3 separate regions of the Homo sapiens genome follow, and all the other regions are linked to region 2. The links come from fine-mapping of genetic effects on gene expression. A gene starts in region 2. Each other region holds a variant in brackets. All regions are shown on one strand. Distances are from middle to middle. Region 1 overlaps CHURC1-FNTB (CHURC1-FNTB readthrough). Region 2 holds the start of FNTB (farnesyltransferase, CAAX box, subunit beta). Region 3 overlaps CHURC1-FNTB (CHURC1-FNTB readthrough).

What was found.
Region 1: its variant is fine-mapped to the expression of FNTB in monocytes (BLUEPRINT, PIP 0.95).
Region 3: its variant is fine-mapped to the expression of FNTB in whole blood (TOPMed, PIP above 0.99). The same link has a PIP of 0.9 or more in blood mononuclear cells.

Annotation. Positions count from the first base shown.
Region 1 is chr14:65,037,516-65,047,712 of GRCh38, reverse strand. CHURC1-FNTB (CHURC1-FNTB readthrough) reads right to left here. Exons shown (of 14, transcript NM_001202559.1): 10 at 6,794-6,923; 11 at 3,270-3,402. FNTB (farnesyltransferase, CAAX box, subunit beta) reads right to left here. Exons shown (of 12, transcript NM_002028.4): 8 at 6,794-6,923; 9 at 3,270-3,402. MIR4706 (microRNA 4706) reads right to left here and starts at 3,025; the gene lies at 2,944-3,025. It also overlaps a transcript of MAX not described here. The variant G/A (reference allele first, on the strand shown) is at 5,445.
Region 2 is chr14:64,982,054-64,992,250 of GRCh38, reverse strand. FNTB (farnesyltransferase, CAAX box, subunit beta) reads right to left here and starts at 5,356. Exons shown (of 12, transcript NM_002028.4): 1 at 5,154-5,356. The coding sequence starts at 5,297. The region is part of intron 3 of CHURC1-FNTB (CHURC1-FNTB readthrough); the gene reads right to left. LOC107984655 (a long non-coding RNA gene) reads left to right here and starts at 5,138. Exons shown (of 2, transcript XR_001750792.2): 1 at 5,138-5,571; 2 at 5,652-6,712. RefSeq lists an enhancer at 1,604-1,723.
Region 3 is chr14:65,025,507-65,035,703 of GRCh38, reverse strand. CHURC1-FNTB (CHURC1-FNTB readthrough) reads right to left here. Exons shown (of 14, transcript NM_001202559.1): 7 at 8,105-8,251; 8 at 7,923-8,006; 9 at 3,008-3,094. FNTB (farnesyltransferase, CAAX box, subunit beta) reads right to left here. Exons shown (of 12, transcript NM_002028.4): 5 at 8,105-8,251; 6 at 7,923-8,006; 7 at 3,008-3,094. It also overlaps a transcript of MAX not described here. Among named protein-coding and RNA genes, the nearest start is that of MIR4706, 14 kb to the left of the region's middle. The variant C/T (reference allele first, on the strand shown) is at 2,273.

The DNA.
Region 1 (10,197 bases), 55 kb before region 2:
AACTCCACTTCAATATACATCCTTTGCTAATATCCCTGCAGGTAAATTCCTGACAGTGCACTTGCTGTGTTCAAAGGGTAAGTGCCCTTATAATTTAAATGGATGTCTCCAAACTGCCCTCCAAAAAATGACTTAACCTATTTACATCCCCACTATCAAATTACCTGTTTTCTCACACTCTCCCCAACATAGGGTATCAAGTTTTTTAATCTCTGCCAATCCAATAATAAAAACAAATAGTGCCACTCTTTTGATTAGCATTTCTTTTACTACAAGTGAGCTAAACAATTTTTCGTTGGATTAATGGCCACCTACTGTGGTTATGAGCAGGGCAGGGTTCAGATGCCAGCTAGTCTGGATTCACACAACCACATACTAACCCTTGTGAGTGCCAATCAGGTATTATAAAGCAATCACTTAACCTCACTGTAGTTTGTTTCCTCATCTGTAAACAATGGTACCTATTTCATAGGGTTGTTTTGAGAATTAAATGAGAAAACATATGTGAAATGCTCAGTACAGCCCCTGGCATACAGTGAGGGCTTGGGAAGACTCCGCTACCAGTAGTAGTGGCAGTTGTAGTAGAAAAAGTAAGAAGGACAGTTCTTTCACTGGGACCTCTTTCTTCAGATCCTTTGCCTGTTTTTCAGTTGGGTTGTCCATCCATTTCTTACTGGTTTGTATGATTTTTTTTCAAATTAAAGAAATTAGCCATTCATCACTTGTTATAAATATTTTTCGCACCTTTTTGCTTGTTTTGTTTGTAGAATTTCCCTGTTTCTGTAAAATAACTTTTGTTGTCTTTTTTTATGCAAGAAATACCTATTAACTATAGAAAGATTAGAAAATACAAACAGAAGCAAACATCACCTGTAACTTCACATCCTAGATACTTTCTATGAATTTTTTGTAGTCAACTCTTCACTAAAAATGGGATTCCACACATATTGCTTTGATATGATCACAATATATTGTGACTATCTTTCTACACTGCATCCCCTTTTGACTCCCAAAGTCAGTATTTTGCCCTCCTTTCAACACACTTCCCTTCTTTACAGACTCCTGTCTGTTCCAAGTTCAAGAGATGCCCTGTGTCTGAGAAGACAACACAGGCCTTCTCCCAGCCAATGAAAAAAGCTGGAAGCACCAAGATTCATAGGCACCCTTTTCCATAGACAAAGCTTTGAATGCCACTAAGCCCCCTAGAACATGTGCTACAAGAAACAATTAACCAGCAGCCCCCCTGGAAGACTTTGACAGGTGGTGCTCCTGTTATAGCTCATTCCACATTTCCCTGGGATTGCAGAATTACTGAGTCTTATCCATGCCAGGGACAGGTTTGTAAAAGACTGACCATTTTACCAGGGGCTTGACCTCACCAGTTCCAAATAAAGAGATCACCATGACCCCAAGTTTTTTTCTATCTTAGAAATGTTGGGCCAGGCACGGTGGCTCACGCCTGTAATCCCAGCACTTTGGGAGGCCAAGGCGGACAGATCACCTGAGGTCAGGAGTTCGAGACCAGCCTGACCAACATGGAGAAACCCTGTCTCTACTAAAAATACAAAATTGGCTGGGCGTGGTGGTGCATGCCTATAATCCCAGCTATTTAGGAGGCTAAGGCAGGAGAATTACTTGAACCCAGGGGGCAGAGGTTGCAGTGATCCATTGCACTCCGGCCTGGGCAACAAGAGTGAAACTCCGTCTCAAAAAAAAATAATACTAAAATAAAAAATGTTTGACTTGGGGAATTCCTGACTTCCCTACTGGTGGTCAAGGCAGAGACTGTGCAGGCTCCAAAGTCAGTGCACTTGCTGACAGTGCACTTGCTGTGTTCCAAGGGTAAGTGCCTTATATGCCTTAATACTGACACCTAAAGCCCAGTGGGCCCAGGCCGGGAAAATGGGACAGAGGCTCTGCTTACTTTAATTCAGTGTCAGAAATGGTCACAACTCAACAACTCAAAGGAAATTAAGAAACTAAATAATGAGGCTCAGGGCCGGGTGCGGTGGCTCACGCCTATAATCCCAGCACTTTGGGAGGCCGAAGTGGGCGGATCACCTGAGGTAAGGAGTTCAAGAACAGCCTGTCCAACATGGTGAAACCCTGTCTCTACTAAAAATACAAAAATTAGCCAGGTGTGGTGGCACGCGCCTGTAGTCCCAGCTACTCAGGAGGCTGAGGCAGGAGAATTGCTTGAACCTGGGAGGTGGAGGCTGCAGTGAGCCAAGATCGTGCCACTGCACTCCAGCCTGGGAGACAGAGCACGACTCCATCTCGGGGGCGGCGGGGAGGGGGGAAGACGGGGGGTGGGGGGCTCAGAAACAGGAAAAAAAAGTATGGGGAGGGGCAGAAAAGAATCTCATCTTTTACATTTGAGCAGTTACATTATCCAACTAAGTCCGAAGAACAGCTTCTCTTTGGACCCAGGGATCTCATTCCAAAAACAGATCAGCAACCAGCAGGGCCCCATGACTTCCTCTCTCCCACAGGTCTACTCAGAGACACCTGCTCTCACATCAAGTACACCAGAAAGATGGTGCAGGAGTTAGCAGGCAGACTGAGGTTTCAAGAGATAGAGAGAGAATGTTCCCAGACTTTTTGCTCACTAACTACTTCGGTTTTGCGTTCCCATTTGAGACCCCACAGAAACGAACGTGGATTTCTCTACTCCAATGGTGCAGGTGGAACAAACTCCCATTTAGGCTTATTCAATGAATGTAAAATAAAACATTTCTAATAGTGACAACTCTGCAGCCAGTCAGACACGGCGAGTCTCTTCTCCATGGTGTAGGGGCAACCCACCCCTACAACCCACCCCTACACATGGGTTCTGGTTCTCTACCCCTTTACGCAGTTGCCTTTCCTGTTGCTGTTGCAACAGTGACTGTTGCAACACTGAGGGTTTTCAGCTCTGCCCTGCACCCAGAGGAGGTGGCAATCACCACAGAGCCCAGGACAGGAGTGGGCTGCTCCTTCCAGATAACGCAGAAGCAGCGCCCACTTCCTCCCCGCTCCCCGTAGCAATTTCAAGGAAGCTCATTCTGTCGCAGCCAATTTGAAGAAGCAAAGAATGACACTAAACCAATGAAACTAAATCTTACTCTGCATTCGCATGCCCCACGGCATGAGGTTCCACACTGGGCACTCAAAATCCAGGATAGACAGAGCTCATTTCAACCCCTCTAAAAAAGCACGCTGGGCTTCCAGACTTTGTGAGTAGTGGAGGGAAATCATCCAGCCCCAAGTGAACAGCTCCCCAGGCTCACCTTGGGCGTGCAGTGCGCGGTGGAGCAGGGGCAGGAGCCCCGCCTGCCAGAAGGAGTAGCAGCCATCCACCAGCTTGTTGCAGCGGCCCTGAAATCCTCCTTCAAATCGCATCTGCCGGCTTGTCACCCATTGCTGAGGAGACACAGATGGGAAAGGCAGTTGTAGGCTAAAAGAGACAAAATCCAGCCCGACAGAATCTCCAGGAGTCAATCTGTGGGATGGAGGGTTTCCCATCTTGTGGCTTCTTGGCACTCTAGTTTTGGTGCTCTGGTTTTCTTTCCTTCCCTCCCCACACTGCCATAGACACAGAGTGAAGCATTTAAGCCAACGCTGTAGAGGCATCCAGCACTGATCTCTGCTCAATGCCTGGCAGACAACTACCTTTTCCTGGGTTCCAAAGCAGTGCCAGTGCTGAGAAGATAAAGAGGCCAAGCTGGTTTGTAAGGAGACCTTCAAAGTCTCTTAATAAACATGGCTTAAGTTGGAAATTGAAGGCAAGACTACCAGTAGCTCATTTCTCATTACTTCCCTGCTCCGGGGAGTTTATTAAAAGCAGATAAATGGAATTTGGTACTACATTTCTTTTTTTTTTTTTTTTTTTTTTTTTTTTTTTTGAGACGGAGTCTCGCTCTGTCGCCCAGGCCGGACTGCGGACTGCAGTGGCGCAATCTCGGCTCACTGCAAGCTCCGCTTCCCGGGTTCACGCCATTCTCCTGCCTCAGCCTCCCGAGTAGCTGGGACCACAGGCGCCCGCCACCGCGCCCGGCTAATTTTTTGTATTTTTAGTAGAGACGGGGTTTCACCTTGTTAGCCAGGATGGTCTCGATCTCCTGACCTCATGATCCACCCGCCTCGGCCTCCCAAAGTGCTGGGATTACAGGCGTGAGCCACCGTGCCCGGCCTGGTACTACATTTCATCAGATGATCTCAAACTGCTCCTGACTTTTACTTGGCACCTGGGGAAATTTACCCAAGGTCTCTTAGCAAGTCACTAGCAGGCCTGAAAGCAGAAGCCATTCATTCTAATTACCAAATGACAACTCTGCCCAGTCTGTGGCTGATATAAGAAAATCTTTTACTTTGAAGCTGTAAAATAGGTCTTGGTCTTGATGTCACTCAGCGGTCACACACGATACCACCATTCCTTGCTTATCTACAAGTTTTCTAAACACACTCTACTACAAAGATCAAGATAGTCATGGGTTTGGTCCCTCAGAATGAGCAGAACCAACTGGCTGAGCAGATATGACATTTCCATTTCCCTCCCTAGACCACCTAGGCCGTTCCAGCCACGGACTTACAGAGCTGCCTCACTCAACTGAAAGGGTACAGGGGAGGGTACTTCCTGTTTCTAGAGTCTTACTAGGTAAAGGTCCTGAAAGGAGCCACTGGGACCCTTGATGGAAGTGGGGGCCAGCCCTCCCCTAAAAGCTGTTGTTTAGATTATTCCCTCTTCAAGGCAACACCTGCCCATAGAGAGTCACAGTCACAAATGCTTAAAAGAGACAGAAAACACTGTACTGCAGGTTCAGGTACTAATATATCCTCGGTTGATCTTAAATGAACCAGGGCTTCCAGCATGTAATGGAAGTGGGCTAAGCATTACTCAGGCAGAGAGAAAGCAGGCGCTGCAGTGGGAGTCGGTTCCTCATTTCTACTTACCGCAGGGCTTAAGTGTTTTTAAGCAGACTAATTTACTTTTTCCAGTGCCTAAGCCCATGGATTTGTTCTGTTTCCTTGGGCTATAGGAATTCATACTTCAGATATGGGTCCTACTTCTCCCAAAGCAAATGGAAGGGAGTAGTCTGGATTAGAGCAGGGGTCCCTAACCCCCAGACCATGCCAGGCTGCACAGCAGGACATGAGTGGTGGGTGAGCCAGTGAAGCTTAATCTGTATTTACAGCTGCTCCTCACTGCTCCCATTACTGCCTGAGCTCCACTTCCTGACAGATCAGCAGCAGCATTAGATTCTCATAGGAGCGCAAACCCTACTGTGAACCGTGTATGCCAGGCTTCTAGGTTGCACGCTCTACATGAGAGTCTAATGCCTGATGATCTGTCACTGTCTCCCATCACCCCCAAATGGGACTGTCTAGTTGAAAGAAAACAAGCTCAGGGCTCTCACTGATTCTACATTATGGTGAGTTGTATAATTATTTCATTATATATTACA[G/A]TGTAATAATAGAAATAAAGTACACAATAAATGTAATGTACTTGAATCATCCTGAAGCCATCACCCCCCGTCCCACCCCCAACCCCAGGTCCACGGAAAAATTATCTCCCACAAAACTGGTCCCTTGTGCCAAAAAGATTATTACTGTGGGTTAGAGGGACACTAACATTTATTAAGTACCTACTATGTGCCAGGCTGTTTATAAATGTTCTCTCCTTTAACCTTAAAAAAATAAGGATTGTTATCCCTACCTTATAAAAGAAAAAAATATCAAGCTAAAAGAGATTAGACAATTTGCCCAAGGACTCATGTCTCAAATGTAGTAGGGACAGGGTTCAAATCTAGAACACTGTCTTTATAACTGAGGCACTCCCTAATCACATTCCTTATCTCTGCCTGGGAGATGGGACTTTTTTGTTTCATGCCTTATTGGTGTTCAGATTTTAAAACATCTGAGAAACTCTTAAGTTCAGCATACAAAGTTGGCTGTTTCAGCATGAGCCTTCAAGCCTTCATGAATCTTTAAAAAGACTACACCGGGGGAGGCTTTCTGAAGGTGGAGGCAAGACACTGCTGGTTACATGTCTACAGGGTACAACAGAAACTCTCCAGGAAGCTCACGATGGGCCGCATAACGGGAGGCTGGCATCTGAACTCAGGGAGAGGAGGTGCATGTCAGTTGCAGCTGGTTTGCTTTGACGTCATGGTCAGGGGGTACATGCTCCCCAAATGACATGACGGGGAATGCCTTCTCCCTGGTGGCCGTGGAGGTGTGTGTGTTTGTGCACCCACTGATCATTTAACTACAATCTAGTGACTCCCTGAAGCTGACTGCTTTCTGAGTTTCTTCTGAATACTGGCCAGGAGCGTGGGGTCCAGACATAAATGTTGGGCTGCCTTCTCAATGCAATTAGCCAGCTCTGCCTAAACAACTCATTTAAATGTAGGTACTAAATGTTTACACAGTGCAGCAGGTAATAAAAGTTTGGTTTCGAAATGCTGCAAAGCTCTTCTTGTAACTTTTCCTCTTAGGAGGTTCTTTCTATAACACACGATAACCTCTAATTCTACGAAACTGAAGTATAAGGAAGGTACTCTGCTCACACCAGATGTCTGCAGCACACAGTCTATGTAGTCTACACACTATGTAAAAAGCTCTAAGCAGGAAGACAGAAAGGCAGAAGGGGGAGCCAAGACAGAGCAGCTGCTCACTCCTTCCTCTGTGTTGGAACAGAGCTAACTCTCTTAGCCCTTCCCATAGCCAAACTCTCCTGAAGCCTGCATGTCTGAGTACAATCACATCACCATGACCTGGGGCCTGAGAGGGGGATGGCTCAAAAGATACTTACTAATAAGCTCTTCAAGTTCAAGGAACGTTCCCTCTTGAGGATTACCAGCGCGGCCAGGCCACAGAAGGTATAGCCACCATGGGCTTCCATCCCTGGTACCCCGCCAATGCCACCTTCCCAGTTCTGACACCTAAGAAGAGATTGAGAAAAGCAGAATGAGTGGCCAGTGAGTGGACGTACACAAGACCAGGACCATCCTAGGTGGCAGAGAAAAAGTTCACTCAGATTAAGGTGTGAACCATCACAACTATGAATGAAAAGATGCCAACTAATTAACTTTTGGAAATGTCTTTTCAAAAAAAAAAAAAAAAAAAAGCTGGGCCTGGTGGCACCCATGTGTAATCCCAGCTGCTCAGGAGACTAAGGCAAGAAGATCACTTGAGGCGAGGAGTTCGAGGCTGCAGTGAGCTATGATCACACCATTGTGCTCCAGCCCGGGTGAAAGAGTGAGACTAGGTCTCCAAAAAATGTAAGTATAATAAAAACTGTAAAATGTTAAAAACCCAGACACTTAGAAACAGCCTACTTGTGTAAGAAACATAATAATTCAAATTATTACTCTTTGGGAAAAAGTTATAAAATCATACATATACATATATGTACATATATACACATATATATACATATATATATATACACACATATATATACATATATATACATATATATATAGTGATAACCATCAAGTTAAAATAAAATTAAAGAGTGATTGTTGATTCTAGTGATCTTTTATTTTTGAAACAGGGTCTTAACTCTGTTACCTAGGTTGACTGCAGATCATGGCTCACTGCAGCCTCAACCTCCTGGACTCAGGCAATCCTCCCACCTCAGCCTCCTGAGTAGCTGGGACTATGGGCGTGCCCCACCATACCCGGACCATTTTTTGTATTTTTTGTAGAGATGGGGCATTGCCATGTTACCCAGGCTGGTCTTAAATTTCTGGCCTCAAGGAATCCTCCCACCCCAGCATCCCAAAGCGTTGGGATGACAGGCATGGGCCACCGCACTTGGCCTCTGGTGATCTTTGAGTACAGGTCTACTAGTAATATTTTTCCTTTTTGTTTTTCTATTTGTTCAAAAAGTTTTTATAATGAACCTGTATACTATTAAAAAATAAACGTTATTTTTAAAAATTATAATTAGGCCAGGTGGTGATGGCTTCTTAAACAGCCTGCAGAACCATGAGCCAAATAAACCTCTTTTCTTTCTAAGTTACCCAGCCTCAGGTATTCCTTTATACTGACACAAAATGGACTAACACAAGAAGGACAAGAAATAACTGACTTAGTAGAATAGAGAAACCTTTCCTACCCAAAGGATAGGGATGGGAGAGGGGCAACAAAAAGCAAGGTGATCTGCTCCAATAAAAGGCTCCAGGATTAGAGATACAGGGAACCTCCACAAAGTGGAATGCGTCTGAACCAAGTTTGTTGGTTGCAAACTTATATAAGAATCAGACCTTTAAGTCCCCTACTCAAATCCAGCAGAAGATGGGAAGTTTCAGAGGTTTAATCAAAAGGATCTGAGTTCCAGAATATCCAACAAGCTAAGAGGAGGAGGGAGCACTGTACCAAATGTGATTACGTGAGAGTCAGTAATCTCAACACAATACCCCCAGCCCCATTCCTCTGTGTATTTCACACAAGGCTGCCAGTTTCATACCCCAAGCAGGAATTTAGAAGATTCCTCTCTGAGGGAACTGATAAGCCCAAGGGAAAAACCCTACAGACACTGCTTTGAGAATTCCCCAATGAATGGCTTGATCCTGCCCACTCTCGCAGAGCTCCCCAGCAGCTTTTCAGTGCTGGATCCTTAAATATGAACAGACAGCTGTAGAGTACCAGACATTTGACCACAGTCTCTACTATGAAAGAGGAGACCAAAACAAACAAAAATAAATTGGAGGAAATAAGACAGGGAGCAAAAGAAAACTTTTTAAAGTTGTATCTTTAGATAAAATATTATATGAAGTAAGACTATTGAGAGGACAAAATATCCCCAGAAAAGAACAAGAGAGTAGATAAAAAAGTAGTCAGGAAGTAAAAGTAGTCAGGGAGGAAAACTAAAAATAGGATTACAAAAATAAAAACAAGAGGATTAGAAGATAAATACTAAGAGAATCTCTCAAAGTATAAGAAGAAGGATTAAGAGATGGAAACGAACCATGCAATGAAATATTTTTATTTTTATTTATTTATTTTTGAGACAGAGTCTCGCTCTGATGCCGAGGCTGGAGTACAGTGGCACAATCTTGGCTCACTGCAACCTCCGCCTCCTGGGTTCAAGTGATTCTCCTGCCTCAGCCTCCTGAGTACGTGGGATTACAGGTGCATGCCACCACGCCCGGCTAATTTTTGTATTTTTAGTAAAGACAGGGTTTCACCATGTTGGTCAGGCTGGTTTCGAACTCCTGACCTCGTGATCTGCCTGCCTTGGCCTCCCAAAGTGCTGGGATTACAGGTATGAGCCACTGCACCCGGCAGTATTATTTTTATTTATTTATTTATTTTGAGATGGAGTCTCACACTGTCACCTGGGCTGGAGTGCAATGGTGCGATCTCGGCTCACTGCAACCTCTGCCTCCTGGGTTCAAGCAATTCTCCTGCCTCAGCCTCCCGAGTAGCTGGGATTACAGGTACCCACCACCACACCCGGCTAATGTTTTGTATATTTTGTAGAGGCTGGGTTTCACTATGTTGGCCAAGCTGGTCTCGAACTCCTGACCTCGTGATCCGCCCGCCTCAGCCTCCCAAAGTGTTAGGATTACAGGCGTGAGCCACCACGCCCAGCCTCAAAGTATTCTTAAAAGTCAGACAATCAAATGTACTAATGGGATGTCATATTTTTAAAAGGCTGGCCAGGTGCGGGGGCTCATGCCTGTAATCCCAGCACTTTGGGAGACCAAGGCAGGAGGATCATTTGAGGTCAGGAGTTTGAGACTAACCTGATCAACATGGCGAAACCCCGTAAAAATTAGCTGGGTGTCGTGGCGCACGCCTATAATCCCAGCTACTTGGGAGGCTGAGGCAGGAGAATCGCTTGAACCTGGGAGAAAGAGGTTGCAGTGAGCTGGTCTGCACCACCGCACTCCAGCCTGGGCAACAGAGCAAGGCACCATCTCAATAAATAAATAAATAAATAAATAAATAAATAAATAAATAAATAAATAAATAAATAATAAATAAATAAATAAGAGGCTGGGCATGGTGGCTCACACCTGTAATCCCAGCACTTGGGGAAGCCGCAGCAGGAGGATTACGTCAGCCCAGGAGTTTGAGACCAACCTGGGCAATGTGGTGAGGCTTTGTCTCTACAAAAATTTAAAAAATTAGCGGATGGTGGATGCCTGTAGTCACAGCTACTCAGGAGGCTGAGGATGATCACTTGAGCCTGGAAAGTCGAGG
Region 2 (10,197 bases):
ACTTTTTAATGGGGAAATTTTGATATGCAGGATTACTTTACACTTGGGCAATATGGTATATGCTGAATTTCAATAAAATAAAATGGATTCAGAAAGCTAGCCTACTGACCACCTAACCAAGCAGAGCTCCAGTCCCTTCTATCAGAGGCATAAAAAGTTGGGAAGTTTTATCATATTTAGTGATTTGTTCCACCTCCATTTACTAATATTTTGGATCCTATAAGCTGAAATAAGTCAACAGCAGGTCAGGATTCTGTTCCGCTGGTCCCTCCTTAGGATATGTGGTGGCCCACTGCCCGAACCTGAAGCCAGCACATCACCTGCCTCTTAATACCCTGATAGGGGCCCACCCGCCCAGCTCACCTCATTTCCTACCACATCCAACCTGCACCCTCCGTTCCTGGTAAGCCATCTTAACGCCCCCAGTCAAGCCTGAGTCTTCCCTCAAAACAGCTCTCCCTCCTTGAATGGCTGCCCCAAACTCTATTTTTTACAGCCCACCCAGTTCCACGTTCTCCATGAAGTCATCCTGACCACCTCAGCCCACACAGATGGCTTTTCAACTCCCCAAAATCCTCGTGCAAAGCAGTTATAATTTAGCACTCTGTGACTGCCTATAGCATATTCTTCTTATTTTTTTCTTTTTTGAGATGGAGTCTTGCTCTGTCACCCAGGCTTGAGTGCAATGGTGCAATCTCGGCTCACTGCAACCTCCGCCTCCCAGGTTAAAGAGATTCACCTGCCTCAGTGTCCTGAGTAGCTGGTATTACAGGTGCACACCACCACGCCTAGCTAATTTTTGTATTTTTTTAGTAGAGATGAGGTTTCACCATGTTGGCTAGGCTGGTCTCAAACTCCTGACCTCCAGTGATCCGCCAGCCTCAGCCTCCCAAAGTGCTGGGATTACAGGAGTGAGCCACCGCACTCGGCCTTACAGCATATTCTTTTTTATCTCTCTAAGATAAAAGAATTTTGAGGGCAGGGATCAAGACTAATAATTCTCTTATATTCCCCTCAGAGTTCAAGTCACTTCATTGACAATGAACCATGCCAATGGTTCAATGACACCATGCCATTTAAAGTGGAGGACGCGTTTGCCTCTGTTCAAAGACAAACTCAAAGAAAAACAGTAGTATCTTTTGTAAACACCTGTTTTTGGCAAGGCTGCTACCTCTGAGACTATCAGTATTAACCTACTGGCCTGAATCAGAGTGTCTGCAATGGGATGATTCCAGATGGCACAATAAGGAAGGCAGGCACTAACAATACAACCATGTCTTGTTCTCTAGTGTCATGAAAGGCCCTCCCTGCATCTGCATTAACAAAACAGCTTAGCAAGGTAGAGACCTTCATAAAAATATCCAGAGCTGACCATTTCTCATTACCTCCACTACCGTCACTGTGAGCTAAGCCACCGTCACCTCTCTCCCAGGATACTGCAATAGCCTCCTAACTGGTTTCCCTGTATCCACCCTCACTCCCCACCATCTACTCTTGACAGTAACCTAAATGAGCCTGTTAAAATGCTAGTCAGACTGTGTCACTCCCCTGCTCAAAACTCTCTGATCATGGATCAGTCTAAGTCCTGGCAGGAAACAGATGGCACAAAGTGGGTGATTTGAGGAGAGTTTATAAAGGAACTATTTACAAAGATGTGGGCAGGTGTAGGGAAACCACAAGAGAAAATGCAGTATCTGGAGCTGGTAAATCAGGGGTACCTGAACTCCTCATAGACCTGAAGGTGTGAAGGATGGAGAGGGAGGGAGACAAAGAGCTCCGCAGAGAAGGCACATGACAGGAAATGTGACCTTAAGTCTAAGGAAACCCCACCCCACACAAGCCTGCAGGAGGGAAGAAATACAGTGGTCTCATTCTTCTCCTTCTCGGTCACCCCCAGCAATACTTCCCATGGCCCGCAGCCATAAAGCAAGGCAACCTGTCAGTGCAGGGCCCCCTCCTGGGGCACATCTACAGAGCAGGCTAGAAAAGGGCCAAGTGAATCTGGGGCAGTAAATGGCAGGTATACAGCCAAGTGGCTCTCCATCTCAGTCAGGGTATTTTAAAGTACTTCCAAAGGCCAATGAGACCCTACATGATCCGACCCATCTCCTACTCTCTGGTTTGCTAAGCCCCCTGCTCACCTGGCATTCTGCTGCCTTGGTCCTTTGTGCTTGCTGCTTTCTCTGCCCAGAATACTCTTGCACCAGATCCATGATGGCTTCCTCCCTCATCTGAGACTTCAGGTCTCAGATCACATGTGTTGTCACCAGAGGGTTCCCCTTAACACCTTATATGAAGACCTCCCCTGCTCCCACCCCACCCATTCCTGACACACCCTATCCCCTCTATCCCAAGGTGTTACTCTCCACAGCGTTTCTAATTAACATTTTATATTGAGATAGCTATAGATATTAACTCTTTTAATTGACTGCCTCATTGGCCTAGAAACAGTTTCATAAAGGCATCAACTTGGCCTCTTTTGTTTAACAACTTATGCCGAGTGTCTAGAACAGTGCCTGGCACGTAGAAGGCGCTCAAGTATTTGCTGAATGAATGAGAATCAACGAATGGAACAGACGACTCACAGCTAAGGACTCCTTCCACTATTTATAGGTTTAACTCCTATTACCAAATTATTGCTTAACAAATAAACCGAGTCTTCTGATAATCAGATAGGAAGCAGGTAACAAGCATTTATTTTTTGTTTGTTTTTTTTTTTAATTTGAAAAGCTTTCATCTTAAATAGACACAGGGTCTTGCTATGTTGCCCAGGCCAGTACCAAAATCAGTATAGTCGTTTTTTGTTTTAAGAGACAGGGTTTTACTCTGTTGCCCAGGCTAGAGTACCGTGGCTCGATCATGGCTCATCTGTGAACTTCTGAGCTCAAAAACAATTCACCCACCTCAGCTTCCCAAGTAGCTGGGACTACAGGTGCATGCCACCACGCTCAGCTACTTTTTTTTTTTTTTTTTTTTTTGGTAGAGACAGGGTCTTGCTATGTTGCCCAAGTTGGTCTCTTGGGCTCAGGTGATCTTCCCGCCTCGAACTCCCAAAGTGCTGGGATTACAGGTGTCAGCCATCAATTTGTTTTTACTGGCAATGGCACAAAATTGAGCTATCAGTAAATGGAAGCTTTAGTTAAAACTGAAAGAGTACTAGTATATCCTCTGTAAACAACTCCTCCTAACAAGGTTGTTACTTTTGATGAATGTATCATTAACCTACCAATGTGGTAGGTCTCTAAACCTCAGTCTTCTCATCCATAAAAAGTGAAAGGATTGAATGATACCACATATGGAGAGCATTTAGCACTGTGCTGAGACTCAATAAATGGTCACTAACATGATTATTAAAACAGTGAGGAAGGCCACAAAAATGAGATACAACATTATCATCCTACTACCTGAAACTGTTCATCCTAGACTCTAATAATGTGTGCTGGAATAACAACATGAAAAAGAAATATAAGATTCTTTACTGTCTGCCATACCGTTGGGTCTAGATTTGAAAGATACTCGCACCAGGAGCAGTGGCTCACGACTGTAATCCCAGCACTCTAGGAGGCCGAGGAGGGCAGATCACTGGAGGTCAGGAGTTCAAAACCAGCCTGGCCACATGGTGAAACCTGTCTCTACTAAAATACAAAAATTAGCCAGGCGTGGTGGTGGGCGCCTGTAGTCTCAGCTACTCTGGAGGCTGAGGCAGGCGAATGGCGTGAACCCGGGAGGCGGAGGGTGCAGTAAGCCAGTGCATCCCAGCCTGGCAACAGGGCGAGACCCCATCTCAAAAAAAAAAAAAAAAAAAAAGGCAATCCCATAGTCTAAGGTCAGATAATAAGTAAAACACTTGACCTGAATCAACTCAGCAATCCATCATTTAGGAATTCTGCAAAGATCCTGTAGGTTTTTCATCAATGGGAAATTTCTTTACAATCTTTTGCAGTCAGCCTTCCCTGGGACACACTGGTAGGCAAACCAACCTGGAGAATTAGCTAGATTCGAGAGGTGAGGATTTCCTTTGCTACCCTAAATTCCATGAAGTTTAAATCTCCAGTTAAAATATTTTCTCTGCTACTTTGTGAATAACCACGTATCAAGCCCTTGTTTCTGTTATAAATTTATAATTCTATTTAGTCATAACTGTACAATAAAACAATTATTGTTACTAATTTTGCCAAAGTACAGGCTTCCAACTTAAAGTAGGAAATACAAAACAGGTCTCTCCAAGGTAAAGCCTGGAGACTGATCTCACTAAGAGATCTTATTTCAGTAAGCAGCAGAATGTTCATTTATTAGTGTTAAGAATTATCCTAACCACTTCTCCTAGGGACAGATGGATAAACAGTTCCACATAGCAACCTTGGGAACAATTCCAATTAGGGAATAAGAAGAAAAACAAAACTATGGTTTTGGGCATATGAATATATACTCATTCGCCAAACACTTTTCAAAATGATAGGTTCGATCCTACTTCTAGGCCTTAGGGAATGATTAGTAGTCCAAAATCCATTCTTTCTATTAGATCACTTTCCAAACTGTTTTCCTGCCTGTCCCCCAACCAGGCTCCTGGTCAGGAGCTGTTTTATTTCCTTGTACTTCCATCGTTTAATATTGTGTCCGACACGTAGCTGGTGCTCAAATGGCTGAATGACTACCAAAATGCCCACCCACGAGGCGGGCCCCCAAACCTGGCACTGTAGGTCAAAAATTAAACAGATCGTGAAACGGCATGACAGCAGCCTGGCCCTGCTCTCTGCCTCCAGAAGCTGAGGGCAGGTTGGGAAAAGTGCACTATGCACCCCAGAACCTCCCGAAGTACTGGCAGAACAGAGTGGGCTGTCCGACCCGCACGGGCTGCCTCTGTCCTCCAGGCATAGAACACGATTCTTCTCGTTCTTTAGGGCAGAGGGGACTCGGCTACTGCCCTCTCCTCCAAGCCCAACCTTGAAACGACCCTTCCCCAAGCTGGCCGCGCAAACGCTCCACGACGAAGCCCAAGCCTGGGCGCCCGGAGCTTCCCAGAGGAAAGGCACCGCGGTGCGCTGTGGGAGTCGTAGTTCCCCGGTGAGTTCCGCACCCGGGCGGCCCTACGAACGGGACTCGCGCTCCCAGAACACATCGCGCGGGCGCCTCGCCCAGTCCTGCCACCTCACCTGTTCTATGGACGTGACTGTTTCCACCGAGTCGTCCTGCAACCGCTCTCGCGCGTGCTCGGGCCTCAGACTGTACAGCGGCTCTGACCAGACGGGGGAGGAAGATGGAGGGCAATAGTAGGTGAAAGAACTCGGAGAAGCCATGATCAGGAGAGCAGCAGACAGTGTGTAGGACTCTGCTTCGTTAAGCAACAACGCGCATTGAAACTCGAGCGGGCTAAAGCGCTACGGCGAGCGGATAGAGGCAAAAAGATTTTGAACGCGAATGTCTCCTCCCGCCTACCCGTCTTTCGAGTGAGTTACTGAGATGCTGCCGCCCCCCATTGGGCAGAGGAGCTGCTGCAAGAGCGTAGAGTCCTGAAGCGCAAGGGTGTCTACATCCGAATTTCATTTCAGCGAGATGGCGTAGGACGCCTCGGTTTGTTACGCAAATTGTTAAAGAACTGTAACATTCTGCTAATTCTCACTTAATTGTAATGCAATTGTTTGCAATTTCAGGTGCCCAAGAACCCAATGAATGTTAAGTTTGAAAGCATTTCTGACAGCTCTACTGATTTGCCTCAGTCAGGCAATTACTAAAAGAATTATTGTGCACCTTGGGGTACTTGACAGCCTCCCAGGAGAAGGCAGCAGCTGCTCAAACGTGCAAGGACGCCGTCTCAGTATCACTCAGTGATGGAGGGAGGGGGGTATTATGATTTTCTCCTGTCTCTTGGAGGTTACACTGCAGTAGCGAGAACTGAAATGCAGTACAAGGAACAAGGATAAGTGAAATAGACAGTCAGTCCGCAGATATTTATGGAACACCTGCTATGTGTCAGGCATTGTGCTAGGTTCTAGGAATACAAAAGTGAACAAAACGAAGTCCCTTCCCTTGGAAACCTTACATTCTAAGAAAATCGACAGAATTGAATGTATCCAACGCAATAAATATATGAAGACTTGTGATAAATGAGATGAAGGAAAATAACAGGGTCTATGAGAGAGACTAAAGGGGTAAGAAACTAATTGAATTGTATGGTCAGGCCAAGCCTCTCTAAATGACCTTTCATTTGAGATCCGAAGGATGACGAGGAGTCATCCAGAAGAACAGTATGGGAAAGAACTCCTGAAAAAGGAAGAAACAGCAGCTTTTAGAAGACATGTGCTGGGCACGGTGGCTCACGCCTGTAACCCCAGCACTTTGGGAGGCTGAGGCAGGAGGATCACTTGAGGAGTTAGAACATCCTGGGCAACATAGCAAGACCTCATCTCTATTAAATATCAAAAAAATTAGCCGGGCGTGGTGGCGCATGCCTGTAGTCCCAGCTGCTCGACAGGCTAAGGTGGGAGGATCTCTTGAGCCCAAGAAGTCGAGGCTGCAGTGAGCTATGATTGTGCCACTGCACTCCAGCCTGGGTGGCAGAGCGAGACCCTGTTTCAAAAAAAAAAAAAAAGCAAAACAAAAAAACAAACAAAAACCATAGGCTCAAGTGACCCTCCTGCCTCAGCCTCCTGAGTATCTGGAACTACAGATGCTCACCACCACGCCCAGCTAGAATAAAAGAAATTCTTATTGATTCTTATGGAGTGGACTTACTCATCACACTTGCCTCCAGAACAACCAAGTTTAAAGTTGTGATTTTTAGGAAAACGCTGCTACCTTTGGACAAGCAATAGAAGAGAATTTATTTTAGGGCATGCATCAAAAGTACTACACCAAAAATTATAATACCAAGAGATTAAACTGGGGGAGTTGTATGTAGGAGATTATAGAAGGTATGATAACAGACATTCCGGGTACACTTGGAGACAAGCTTTACTTCCTGCTCAGAGCACTTCACTCTGTTCCCACTCCATTCCATGTCACATGTCTAGGATCCAGGGATTATAGACCAGAGTGACATTTGACAACCAGCCATTCCCCTGTTCTCAGTCTCTGGTAGTAAATAGAAGCACTCACAAAAATTTCAAAGATGAGGCTGGGCTGGCCTAAAGACCTCAGGTGGATAAATACTACCACCATGTCCATTTTAGTGGTACTGTTGCTGAACTAAGACCTAGAGGCACCAGAATATTACCAAATCTGGAAATAAGGGGACAGTATGGGTTAGGACCCATGGATAAGGCTGCACAATGTGAAATGGTCTCATTATACTGCCCCCTGTATTGGCATCTTACTGTCTTTCCCTTAGTTATATTTTGGGAAATAAATGGTCTGATAAGGTCAGGGTTATATCTAAGGATTCAGCCTTTGTCACAAAGAGTTTCTTTGCAGGAGAGCTGGAAACTTAACGCTTCAATCCTGAAGACTGTGCTATTGAAAGAATAGCTGGGACAGTTTTGTGACAAATTGTTGCATCTGTCACAGATGCACCTAAAGCAATTGCAAACTGTATTTTAGAAATAAAAATTCATCTCTGAAATTCAGTCTCCTCTGCAGTGGGATCCAAAAGATGTGAATAGGAACATGGGCAAGAGTCTCCGGCAGGATAGTGTGTTCTCATTCAATTAATGTTTATTGAGTACAGGGTAAGTGCTGGGCACTGAGCTAAGTGCTAAGGAGACAGCAGTGAACAAGCCAGACACAGTCTCTGCCATTATGGGTCTCATGACTTACCAGAAAAAACATTAAACAGTAATGACAGAATTGACTCTTTCATGACAGTTGGGAGAAATGGGATGAGGCAGAAAGAAGCATGGAGTGTGTGAGCTTGCATGATGGGGGGACCCTAAGGTAGCCTGGAAGGTCTGGAAAGACTCCCATGAGGAAGTGAGTTAATTAATCCAGGGGATGAGAACATCCCAGGCAGAGGAAACCCAGTGACAACACCAAATCAAGTGAAACCAGCAATGAAAAATATGTGGGGTTTGTACTCCATGTAAGCATCAAGAAGACCTGGATCAAATAGCCCACTAGTTGTCCCTCCTCTTGGTTTAATAAAACCACTCATTCAAGAAGCAGAATGAACATAAATATTAATGGTGCTATAGAGAATGATATATTTAGAGAGAAAACTCTTAGTCATGATAATAGCAACTCCAGCTTGGACTGCAGATGGTTTATGTTTATTTTACTCACATGCCTGATACTCTTTTCTAAATTAAACTGATCGTGTTTCTTTAAAAATAATATTAAATGTGGACCGTGCTGTTTTATACTTTTAAGAGCAAGAAAAAGAAAAAAGTAATGGTCTAAATGAACCCCTAGAGGTCGCTTCCGACCCTGGAGTGCGTTTAGGGAGTAAGTTTTAAAACTGCTCTCACCGTTCTCCCTGTTTTCACTCATACAAGCCGTATGTCGGAATGAATTGTTTCCTTTAATATCTTGTGAAACTGTGTAGTAATACATATTGGAACATTTGGAAAATGGAAAGAACTCATCTATTATCCCGCTAGGTAATTAACTTCCTCCCCAAGTTTACTGCCCACCATCATCTGTGCCCTCCTACTCGGCGGTCCTGTCCCTCCTATTCCCCTAGATGGAATGACTGCCCCATCTCCTACCTAGGACCAGGTCATCTCCCTCCCCTCACGCGCCACCCCCCAAAGACTGTCGCAATTCTCCCTTTCCTTTCCTAAAACACCAAATTTTTCCTCTACTTGATCATCCAGATCTCCCTCAAGCATGCCATTTTCTCATTCTTGGCAGCGTGGAGGGTGAGGGGCTTTTTTTTTTTTTTTTTTTTTGAGACAGAGTCTCGCTCTGTCGCCCAGGCTGGAGTGCAGTGGCGCGATCTCGGCTCACTGCAACCTCCACCTCCCGGTTTCACGCCATTCTCCTGCCTCAGCCTCCCAAGTAGCTGGGACTACAGGCGCCCGCCACCACGCCCGGCTAATTTTTTTTTTTTTTTTTTTTTTTTTAGTAGAGACGGTGTTTCACCGTGTTAGCCAGGATGGTCTCGATCTCCTGACCTCGTGATCCGCCCGCCTCGGCCTCCCAAAGTCCTGGGATTACAGGCATGAGCCACCGCGCCTGGCTATGAGGGGGTGGGGGGGGGTGCATCTCTAACCCTCTTGATTCCACTCCTTCTCCAGCTACCTCCCGATGACTCATTGGCGGAGACCCTTGAAAGATTTGCTACTACTAACGTCTCCAGGTCCTCTCTTCCAACTCTCTCAAGCCCATTCTAATCAGGTTTTCCAATCGTTTCTTATCAACTCTCCATTAAATTCCATATCGCCAAATCCAAGGGCCAGGTCTCAGTCCTGATCTCAAGTCTTCCTTCTTGACTTCCCAGCAATATTTGCACAGTTGATCATTTCCCTTCTTGAAACACATTGTCCTTGTGGTGCCTCACACTGGTTTTCCTCCTTCCTTGCCTTTCTAATATCTTGGATACCTTAGCTTGGGGTACCCCAGGATTCAGTCCTCAGACTTCTTATCTGTCTGCACTAACTTCCCTGTCAGCTCAGGCAGTCTCAATGTTTTAAATAACACTTATAGGTTGAAAACTCCCTAATTTGTATCTCCAACCTGGATCTCTCCTGAACTCCAGAGTTCATGTCTAATGTCTATTTGCATTTCCACTTAGATCTCCAATAGGCATCTCAAACTTAACATATCCACAACAGAGCTGCTGGTCTTCCCTTCCAAACTTGTGCACTCAGTCTCCCCGATCTCTATTATGATAACTCCATCCTTCCAGTTACTCCAAATACCTTGGAATCATTCTTGCTGCCTCTCTTTTTCTCACTCCTTGTAAGTTCTGTTCTAAATATATCTAGCATCTGATCACTGCTTACCAATCCCACTGCCAGTGTCCTGGTCCAAGCCACCATCATCTGTTACTTGGATTCTTACACTAATCTCTTAACTGTTCTCCCTCTTTTCACTCTTGTCCCCCTGTACCCTAATACAAACTTGCTATAGACTGAATGTTTAGGTGCCCCCAGTAGTCATATGTTGAAACCTAATCCCCAATATGAAGGTGTTTGAAGGTGGAGCCTTTGGTAGGTGTTTGGGTCATGAGGGCCGAGCTGCCATAAATGGGATTCATGTCCTTATAAAAGAGACCCCACAGAGCTCCCTCACTCCTTCTGCCATATAAGGACACATAGAGAA
Region 3 (10,197 bases), 43 kb before region 2:
TTAAACATTAGCTGGTTATGGTGGCACGCGCTTGTTGTCCCAGCTACTTAGGAGGTTGAGATGGGAGGATTGCTTGAGCCCAGGAGGTGGTGGCTGCAGCGAGCTGTGATCACACCACTACACTCCAGCTCGTGCAACAGAGCAAGACTCGGTCTCAAAAAAAGAAAGAGAGAATTGAAAGACAGAGGAAGAAAGAAGGAAGAGAAGAGGAAAGAAAGGGCAAAACTGGGATTCAAACCCAGGCTGTCTGAGTTCCGTATCTAGTCTGTGCCTAACCAGTCAACCCCCCTGCAAATGACAGCTGTACACTGAACAAAATACAAAAAAACAGCTTCCTGAGGGTTCAGCTGACTGAAAAAGGGCAGGCAGATTTTGGTGGAGTTTGAAACTTGGAACAGAGAACAGCATGCAGTTAGTCCCTCCCTTCCCCCACAACTTTTTCTCTCTGGTTTGCCCTCAGGATGGCAGCCATAGCCCAGGGCGGCAGCAGCAGGCCAGGGGTCAGGGGTCAGGGCGGGCAGCCAACACTCTAATGGGAAGCCAACCATCCTTCTGGCAGGAAGATGCAGGCTGCCAGAAACTGAGGACGAATCCAGAAACAGGAAAGTCAAAGAAGAAAAATCCCAAATTCTGCATTTAAACTCAGTTCAAGTTTCCACATACGTGCTGGGGAAACAAAGCAACTTCTAAGCAAGAACTGAGCTCTGAGCTGCTGCATGAGTGACAGTTTGTAGCTTGAGTCTGACCAAGTTGACTGCCTGCTAAACTGAAAACATCAACCCCTTTTGGGGCAAACCAACAGAATCCATACCGTTCTGTTGTATGACACCTCCACCATCATATCACAATGTCTAGGACACAACACAACATCACTCAGCACAGGAAGACTCATGGAGCTGACATGCCAACTCCAGGACACACAGATGTGGAAATTCCCAGACAAGCAATTTAAAGCAGACATTATAATTCCATACTTACCACAGCAAAATGAAGAAAAATGCACTCATAAAGAATAAAAAGATGGAAAATCTCAGCTGAGAAACACAAAATATAAAAGAGAACCAAACACAGGCAGTGCCTACTCTCCAGCTCTCAACTATAGCTGCCTTACCATTGAGCATGACAGTCCTCAATGAACTCTGGTTACTATTATCAGCCTTATTAACAATGACATTGGAAGCCAGAAGATAATGAAGCAATGCTTACAAAATTCAGAAAGACTACAGTTTATACCATTGCCAAGTTAGAAATCTCTAACCAAATAATTAAGTGTGAGATTAGAACACAGATACATGCAAGATATTAAAAATGTATCTCCCAGGTACCCTTTTTTGGGATCTGTTGGAGTACAATACTTCATGAAAATAAGAAAACCAAGAAAAAGGAGGACAGGGACTTCAACGAAGGAGAGAAATGAAGTGAATTTCATGCTGAAAGGAAGCTTCGGGATGCCTGCTGTGTAGCAAGCTGAGAGCAATCTGTCCAGACTGAAGCAGGAGGGCAGAGGGCTCCAGAAGGGGCAACTCAAAACGCACGTGTGCACAGAGACAGGTTACCTGAAGGGTTTGACTATGTTTAGAGTAATTTTTTATAGCTCTGACAGACAATTTGGGAAGGAATTCATAAGTACATTCATGATATATCCATTAACTCCAGGAAAATGAAACTCATACAAAAAAGTAAACATGATCTCAGCATATCATCTGGTATCACTGTAAATTATATTTATATGGTAATACATACTACTTTGATAAAAATAAAATTTTTTTAACTAAAACAGTATCTCAGCTTGGCTATCATTCCATCATAGTATATATGTGTCTACTATACCTTTTGCTTCTTTTTTTGAGATGGAGTCTCGCCCTGTCGCCCAGGCTGGAGTGCAGTGGCGTGATCTCGGCTCACTGCAAGCTCCGCCTCCTGGGTTCACTCCATTCTCCTGCCTCAGCTTCCCGAGTAGCTGGGACTACAGGCGCCCGCCACCATGCCCAGCTAATTTTTTGTATTTTTAGTAGAGACGGGGTGTCACCATGTTAGCCAGGATGGTCTCGATTTCCTGACCTCATGATCCGCTTGCCCTGGCCTCCCAAAGTGCTGGAATTACAGGCGTGAGCCACCGCACCTGGCCTGCTTTTTTTAAACTATGAAATATTTGGAGCATCCAGGAAAGTACAGCAAACAAAATATAGAACATACACGTATCTAAGACCTAGCTTAGAATTAGCCATATACACTTCAGGTCTTTGTTGTTGTTAACTATTACAGCTGAAGT[C/T]TCCTATGCAGACTTATCTCATTTCCTTTGCTCTCCCCTCAGCGGGAATCACTATGCTAAATTTGGTGTTTATCTTTCGTATACATGTTTTTATATTATTACCACATGATTCTTCTCAGAAACAATACAGAATTCTCTTGCATGTTTCAAATTTTAAGTAAATGTGCTAATCTGTATGGTTTTTTTGTATTTTTTTCTTTTCATTCTTTCAACTCAACATAGAGATTTTTCCATATTGATACATGTAACTCTAGTTCATTCATTTTCACTGCTACATTATATTCCGATGCAACTATACCACACTTACCCATCTCGTGCTTATGAGCACTGAATCTGCTTTCAGCTTTTGGCTCTTATAAACAAGTCCTGTGCTCCTCTCTCCCATTCGTGTGTGCAAGGGTTTCTGTGGGAGTGGAATTACTGGGTCCTACGCAAGGGCACCTTTGACATACTGTCAAATTGCTCTAAAAACTGGTTAAATCAATTCAGGCTCTCACTAATATTGTTTACCAAAGTTTTTTATCTTTGCCAATCTAAAATATAATATAACATTAAAGAAAGTTTGGAAAAAAGAAGACATTTTAAGTATTTAAAAAAATCATTAGATAACCCTAATGGATCTCCTGTGATTTTTGTATTTCCTTCCAAGTCCCTCTGCATTTTCTTTATTTTTCTGAAGTAGTGTCGTGACCGCCTGCTCTCCAAGAGGCCAGGAGAAACCCTGGCTTCTCTCACCTTGCTATCCATTCAGCAGTGCCCTCAAAGAGGTCTGGAGTGATGATGTTGGTCAGCGAGGCTACGGAGGCAGCACAGTATGCGCTTCTGGAAAGACAGAAACGGGAAACACATTAAGCTCTACGGAAGAGCTAATGAGGCTCAGTGAACTCCGCGGGCGGACTGCTCGCCTTGCCTAGTAAGCTGTAATCACCTCCTGTCCTCACTCTTGGCACACGGTCAGTCCTCCTGGGTCTCCAACTGAGAGGTGTGACATTCTATTTGGATAGAGTTGCTCACGGCATGGCTTCAGTGAAAGAACATGACATTCTATTCTCCCTACCTCCACATGGTCCAATCTACATCAGAGGAAATAACAGCCATATCAATTCATGTCAAAAGTGGATTCAGCTCTTCTTTCAAAGACCTATAATGGTTGCCATAAATCTATGGTATCATTCAGGTACTTCTGATATGCTCATTCATTTGGATGTTAGTACTGTTTCAGAGCCAGGATTTCTGTTTACAGCCTTGACACATTAAAGATTAACTATACTTTTTCTGCAACAGATAAACTGCAAAACAGGCCACCAAATTGTAATAGATCAAACAAGGATAGGAACAGGTGAGTCCACTCCAATACAGTCCTTAAACCTCTAGAGGGAGAAAAGAGCCTTGATTTCAAACCTCTCACCAGTACACACACACACACACACACACACACACACACACACACACGTTAAATGAAAAAGGCGCACGTCTATATTTTTTGTTTTGCTTTTGTTTTGGTTTTTATTGAGACAGGGTCTCACTCTGTCGCCCAGGCTAGAGTGCAGTGGTATGATCTCAGCTCACTGCAACCTCCGCCTCCTGGGTTCAAGCAATTCTCCTGTATCAGCCTCCCAAGTAGCTGGGATTACAGGCGCATGCCACCATGCCTGGCTTATTTTTCTATTTTTAGTGGAGATGGGGTTTCGCCATGTTGGCTAGGCTGGTTTCAAACTCCTGACCTCAAGCAATCCACCTGCCTTGGCCTCCCAAAGTGCTGGGATTACAGGCATAAGCCACCGCGCCCGGGCTATTTTTTAAAAAAGCATTATTAGGCTGGGCACAGTTGCTCATGCCTGTAATCCCAGCACTTTGGGAGGCTGAGGCAGGTGGATCACGAGGCCAGGAGTTCAAGACCAACCTGACCAATATTGCGAAACCCCGTCTCCACTAAAAACACAAAAATTAGCTGGGCATGGTGGCGTGTGCCCGTAGTCCCAACTACTTGGGAGGCTGAGGCAGGAGAACCACTTGAACCCGGGAGGCGGGGGTTGCAGTGAGCCAAGATCATGCCACTGCATTCCAGCTTGGGCAACAGAGTGAGACTCTGTCTCAAAAAAAAAAACAAACACAAAAAATTATTATACTTGATTTAGGATCATTCTTGCTGTTCCATCCTCCCAGCCCTAATTCTTCTCGGGGCACATTTTATTTCAGCTTCTCCCTCTGTCATGGTATACACACACAGACTGCCTTTCCTTCCCCTCTATGGTTTTTTCAAATACCCGGCACAGGGAAGACAAAAATCATTGGTTTGAATTCTGCTCAAAAATCCTTCTCCTGGCCAGGCATGGTAGCTCATGCCTGTAATCCCAGCACTTTGGGAGGCTAAGGCAGGTGGATTATTTGAGGTCAGGAGTTCGAGACTAGCCTGGCCAACATGGTGAGACCTCGTCTCTACTAAAAATACAAAAATTAGCTGGGCATGGTGGCACACGCCTGTAATCCCAGCTACTTGGGAGACCGAGGCAGGAGAATCGTTTGAACCCCAGAGACAGAGGTTGCAGTGAGCCAAGATCCCACCACTGCGCTCCTGCCTGGGCAACAGAAAGAAACTCCATCTCAAAACAAAACAAACAAAAAGTATATTCCTAAGGGCTCCTAAGAAACATAAAAGAAGGGCCTAGTTTCCATCTTCTTTTTTTTTTTTAAGATAGGATCTCACTTTGTTGCCCAGGCTGCAGTGCAGTGGCGCTATCATGGCTCACTGCAACCTCAAACTCCTGGGCTCAAACTGATCTTGCCTCAGCCTCCTAAGCAGCTGAGGCTACAGATGCATGCCACCACACCTGGCTAATTTTTTAAAAATTTTTTGTAGAGACAGGGTCTTGCTGTGTTACCCAGGTTGGTCTTGAACTCCTGGCCTCAAGTGATTCTCTCATCTCAGTCTCTCAAAGTGTTGAGATTACAGACATGAGCCACTGCCGCTCGGCCCTGGTTTCCATCTTACTCAGTATAGATATAACATGAAGTCAGACTTACTGAGGTATTCCAAAGAAGTCTCTGCAGAAGCTGCATGCATTATGATCCTACCAGCATTTTTAGCAGCCAAAGGCACAGTGGAAGTTTAGTTCCACCAGCAGGCATTGGGAGCACACAAGAGTCACAAGTGCCAATGCCAAATGTGATCATCTACCAGCAGCTAATTTTGAAGATCTGTCTAATTTCCTTGCAATTGTAGGCCTCTTAAAGAGGCTCAGATGCATTTGCTCTTGAATCCTATTGTGACTTGTGAGGTAGGAGGCGACCTATAATACAGTTTGCCTCTCACAAGTGTGAGGACTAAGAAGTGATGACAGAAGACAGGAGTCCCAGGTCTCACGCTGAGATGGGGAGGAAACGTAATACAACCTTTTCATGTATTTCTCCCCCTTTCCCTCCACCCAGTCATCGCAGCTCTCAAATTTGAATTTGTCCACTAACTTTCCATCCTTGCTGCCATCACCCAAATCCAAGCCTTCTTCAACCTGGATCAGTCTTCCTGCTCTCTCTCCCTCCAGCCCTGAAACCAGAGGGCTTTTATTGGAACACTACAGTCCATCACTGCAATTGGGAAACTTCTAAGAAAATACAAATCAGATCACATCACTAAACTCCAGACTCCATAGGAGATTTCAGGGCCTCTGTAGCCTGTTCCCAGCCTGTCCCTCCAGCTCCACTGCTCCCCTGCCCACCAGGCCATCTACACTTCAACACTGAACTTGTCCTTTCTTGAGCAACACATGCTTTCTCACCAAACTTCTGCAAATGCTAGATCCCTGCCTCCACCTTATCCTCACAGAATGATCTAGATTATATAACCTAGAAAGGAGGTCTCCTTTCTTAAGAACTGAGAAAAAATAGTGCTTGCTATGAGTTCACTGTGATTTGATTTTTTACAATACACTGGAACTACAGACCCTTGAGTAGGCTCATCTCTGAAACTATCAGCAGTGTAACAGAGCAGAAAGATCATCCAGAGACTGCTGTCTATCCCAGAAGGGCAGCGAGCTAGTCTCCAGATGTCAAACTCTCCCATCACTGCTGCTTTTCTCCAAGTCAAATCCACCCAAACAAGCACTCCTGAGGACTGGCTGATGCTTCCAGGCAAAGGACAATGAAAGAAATGCCAAGTGAAAAATGATGGAATCGGGGTACTAGAAACCAGGCAAAGCAAGGAAAATGGATGCAATCTGCTAGCTTTTCTCTATCATTCATATCTTTAATCCTTTATGTAAATAGAAAGCACGGGCACGAATGGCAGAGCATCACCCAAAGAGCAAAGGTCAGGGAAGAATATGGCTACAGTGCTTGGCAGGGGAACCAAGCTGCCTTACTGGAGAAGTTTCCTAGCATTTATCTAGAACATATAAATAAAGAGCATAGGGAAAAAAAAAGTGCTGGAATGAATAAGATAGCAAATAATCACAGCTGCAAAAGGTATATGATAAAATACCAAAAGGATCTTGCTATGATTTGTTTGCTTTTGCCTAATAATCTTAGTAGGTTTTTAAAAGCTGCGTTTCAAGACTGTGCATATTTTGGGGGAATAGCAACAGAACAGGAACGAAAATGTAGTGAACACGAGGGAAAAAAACTCTTTTAACATTTTCCTTAAGAAGAATCAACACATACTGATTTACCTCAGTCGTTCTACTGGTTTCACTGGTATACACAGATCCTAATCTAATTTTTTTGGTTGGATTAGACAAGTTAGAGATAGAAGAACATCTTGAACTAAAGGCCTTTGCAGCCTGATTACCTATTATCTGTAATGTATTTTATGCTCCACAATGTTCGTGGTTTTTTCCTCCCCTATACTTTCAAACCAATGGTTAAACCAGATGCTTAAGCCAGACTATTAATCAACTTGTGTAGAAGCAAACCCATTTACACATAGGCAGTAAGACAGCTTTGCTATAGAAACCTCACAAAATGTATTTCTCAACTAAATAATAAGAAAATGGCATAAAATCTCAATAAGCCACTGTCTTAGAGAAATGGCTTATTCAATGAATTCCCTGTATGCCTCATAAGTAATCTGCCAGGTGAGGAAGCAACTTGCTTGGTACATCAGACACTTATGGAAGAAAATAATAATTTCGAGCTAACTGGCACCAATCAGTTAATGCGATTTTATTGCACTGCACTCTCCCGGCCCACAAGGCTCTCTGCACCTCCCAGAAAAACTCTCATGTGCCTCAGGAGGACCTCAGGGATTAGACATTCTCATGATTTCATCAAATTCACTCAGAAGGTATTTACTGAGGCCCTGCTGGACTTTCCCCTCCCTTCCTATCTCAGAGAGGTGAAGGAATACATTACACCATACAGTTATTTATATTGTGGTATATCATTTTGTACCAAACAAATGTATTTTTAATTTCTAAAACAAAAGCATTTGTTTCTTATATTTTCACATTTACATAAAATAAGTCAAGTGATCATGACACCTGAGGACATCTGCATCACATCTGAATGATTCTGACGTGTCACTGACATGTCATCCCATGTGTCATTCTGGGACAAAGCAGCAGCTTCCCCATGATGTTCCTTAGGCTTGGCATCTCTAATGGCAGATGAGCTCTAGAGTCAACTGATGTGGCAGCCTGTGCAAAACCCCACTCACCTCACATCCACCTCACCTCCGACATGCATGAGAAAGGAGCCGTCAGGTTGCTTCAGGGAGTACAAATACTGAAGAAGCTTCTCTCTGAGAAACAGGGAAAGAGGTAGGAGAGGCAACAGTCAGTGCGTGTCAGCAGGCGGGGAACTCCTCTAGGTTTCTGTCACTGCTGGCTTTCACTGTACCTGTTAATGATGTCATAGGCCTCCTCGGTGCCAATGATGCACAATGCATTGACTGCTGCATATGTGGGTGCAAGGTGTGGATACTGACCGGGTCCTCCTCCAAAGCCACCTTCTGGGCTCTGACACAGCTCCAGGAACTGACACACACTAGGTACACAGCCAAAGGGCAAAAACAAAGTCAGAGAGCATTCATGTCAAAACACCAAATTCCCACTAGATTCCAGGCCTTTCCAATGATCCCCCACTCCCTCAAAAGTTGAGGGGAACCTCTCCTCCCACTTGTTGAATATAACCTCTCCCCAAAGGGCTTAATTCTCTCTCCAGCTATCATCATTTCTGTCTGCCCTCCTCTGAGTTTCGTACTTAAGCGCTTGTTGGTCATGAAGCAGGGAACACAAGGCTGGGAAGAAACCGACTTTCGTAGCTATGGGGTAAGAGTCTCCCGTGCTTCCCACACAAACCTTTCCCAGACTTTCCACTCAACTTGCTGCCCTGGACCTGTGGTACCAGCCTCCTCCTCCTTGCCTTTGGGAACCTCCCAGCCTTTGAATTTTGCCAAAACATGGTGCTCAACTGCTTCTTTCCACACTAACCATCCTAGTCAGGATCCATCACCTAGGCCTATCATGAACATGTAAATAGAGGTCTTCTCACTCCCATTGCCACCTAAGCCTCTGTGGGCCACTGATTTCTACTCCACCAGTAAGAAGCAAGTTTTGTTTTTTTGTTTTTTTTTTTGAGGCGGGGTTGCCCTCGGTCGCCCAGGCTGCAGTGCAGTGGTGTGATCTCAGCTCATTGCAGCATCCGTCTCCCAGGTTCAAGAGATTCTTTTGCCTCACCCTTCCAAGTAGCTGGGATTACAGGCGTGCACCATCACGCCCAGCCAATTTTTTGTATTTTCAGTACAGACAAGGTTTCACCATGCTGGCCAGGCTGGTCTTGAACTACCTGACCTCAAGTGATCCACCCGCCGCAGCCTCTGCAAGTGCTGGGATTACAGGTGTGAGCCACTGCATCCGGCTGAAAAACACATTTTTAATGGAGCCTGCTTCCATGGCTGGGAGAACAGAAGAGAGGCAGGCTGCTCTCATGCTCACCTTAATTGCGGTAAACATAAGAGGAGCTGCACTGACTCGCCGTGAGAATGCCTCCCAGTCTGCGGGTTCTTGGAGAATTCTCCACGTTAATTCAAACAGGCTCCCATTCCCTCACTGAGGGGAGCTGTTTTCTGAGGGTTTGCCTCCAAGCCTGGCATCAGGCTGCCCAGAGGTTACAGTCTTGCTTTAGGTGAAATCAAGAGAGCCCTATCATCAGTCCGGGGTCTTCCGAAGTGCACCAGAAAGGGTGCCCCAGGAAAGCCCTGGTTATCAAGCTGTTTCTCCACAGCTCAGCAGGGTCACAGCCTTCCCGCCAGGAGAAACCTCCATTTACAACAAGCAAACTGTCTTTGCAGTGTTCATGGGGCCTTCTTTCCTGGGCGCTTTCACCTCATTATTTCCTTGCTACTGCTGCCAGAAAGACTACATAGCCTACTCTCCAAGAAGACACAAGTTTATAACTGTTTGCCAACATCACATTTAATTGCTTTCGATTTCAGAGTTCCCATTATCCGGGCAGAGAAAGCAAAAGCAAACGCTGCTGCCTTGCTCTGTGAGTTCTGAAACGTCACAGGTTAAAACAACACATACTTCTTTTTGCACCTACAATTTTACTGTAGAAAACACAAGGATTGAAACTGAAGTTGAAAACAATTATGTGGCACTATGGTTTTTGTTTTTGATTTTGAGAGAGGGTCTTACTCTGTCGGCCAGGCTGCAGGACAGCGGCATAATCACGGCTCACTGCAGCCTCAACCTCCCCAGACTCAAGCTATCCTCCCACCTCAGCCTCCCAAGTAGCTAGAATTACAGGCATGAGCCACCACGCCTGGCTAGTTTTTGTATTTTTTATAAAGATGGGGTTTCGCCATGTTGCCCAGGCTAGTCTTGAACTCCTGGGCTCAAGCAATCCTCCCACCTCGGACTCCCAAAGTGCTGAGGTCACAGGTGTGAGCCATCATGCCCAGCATGTGACACATTTTTAACAGCAATTAA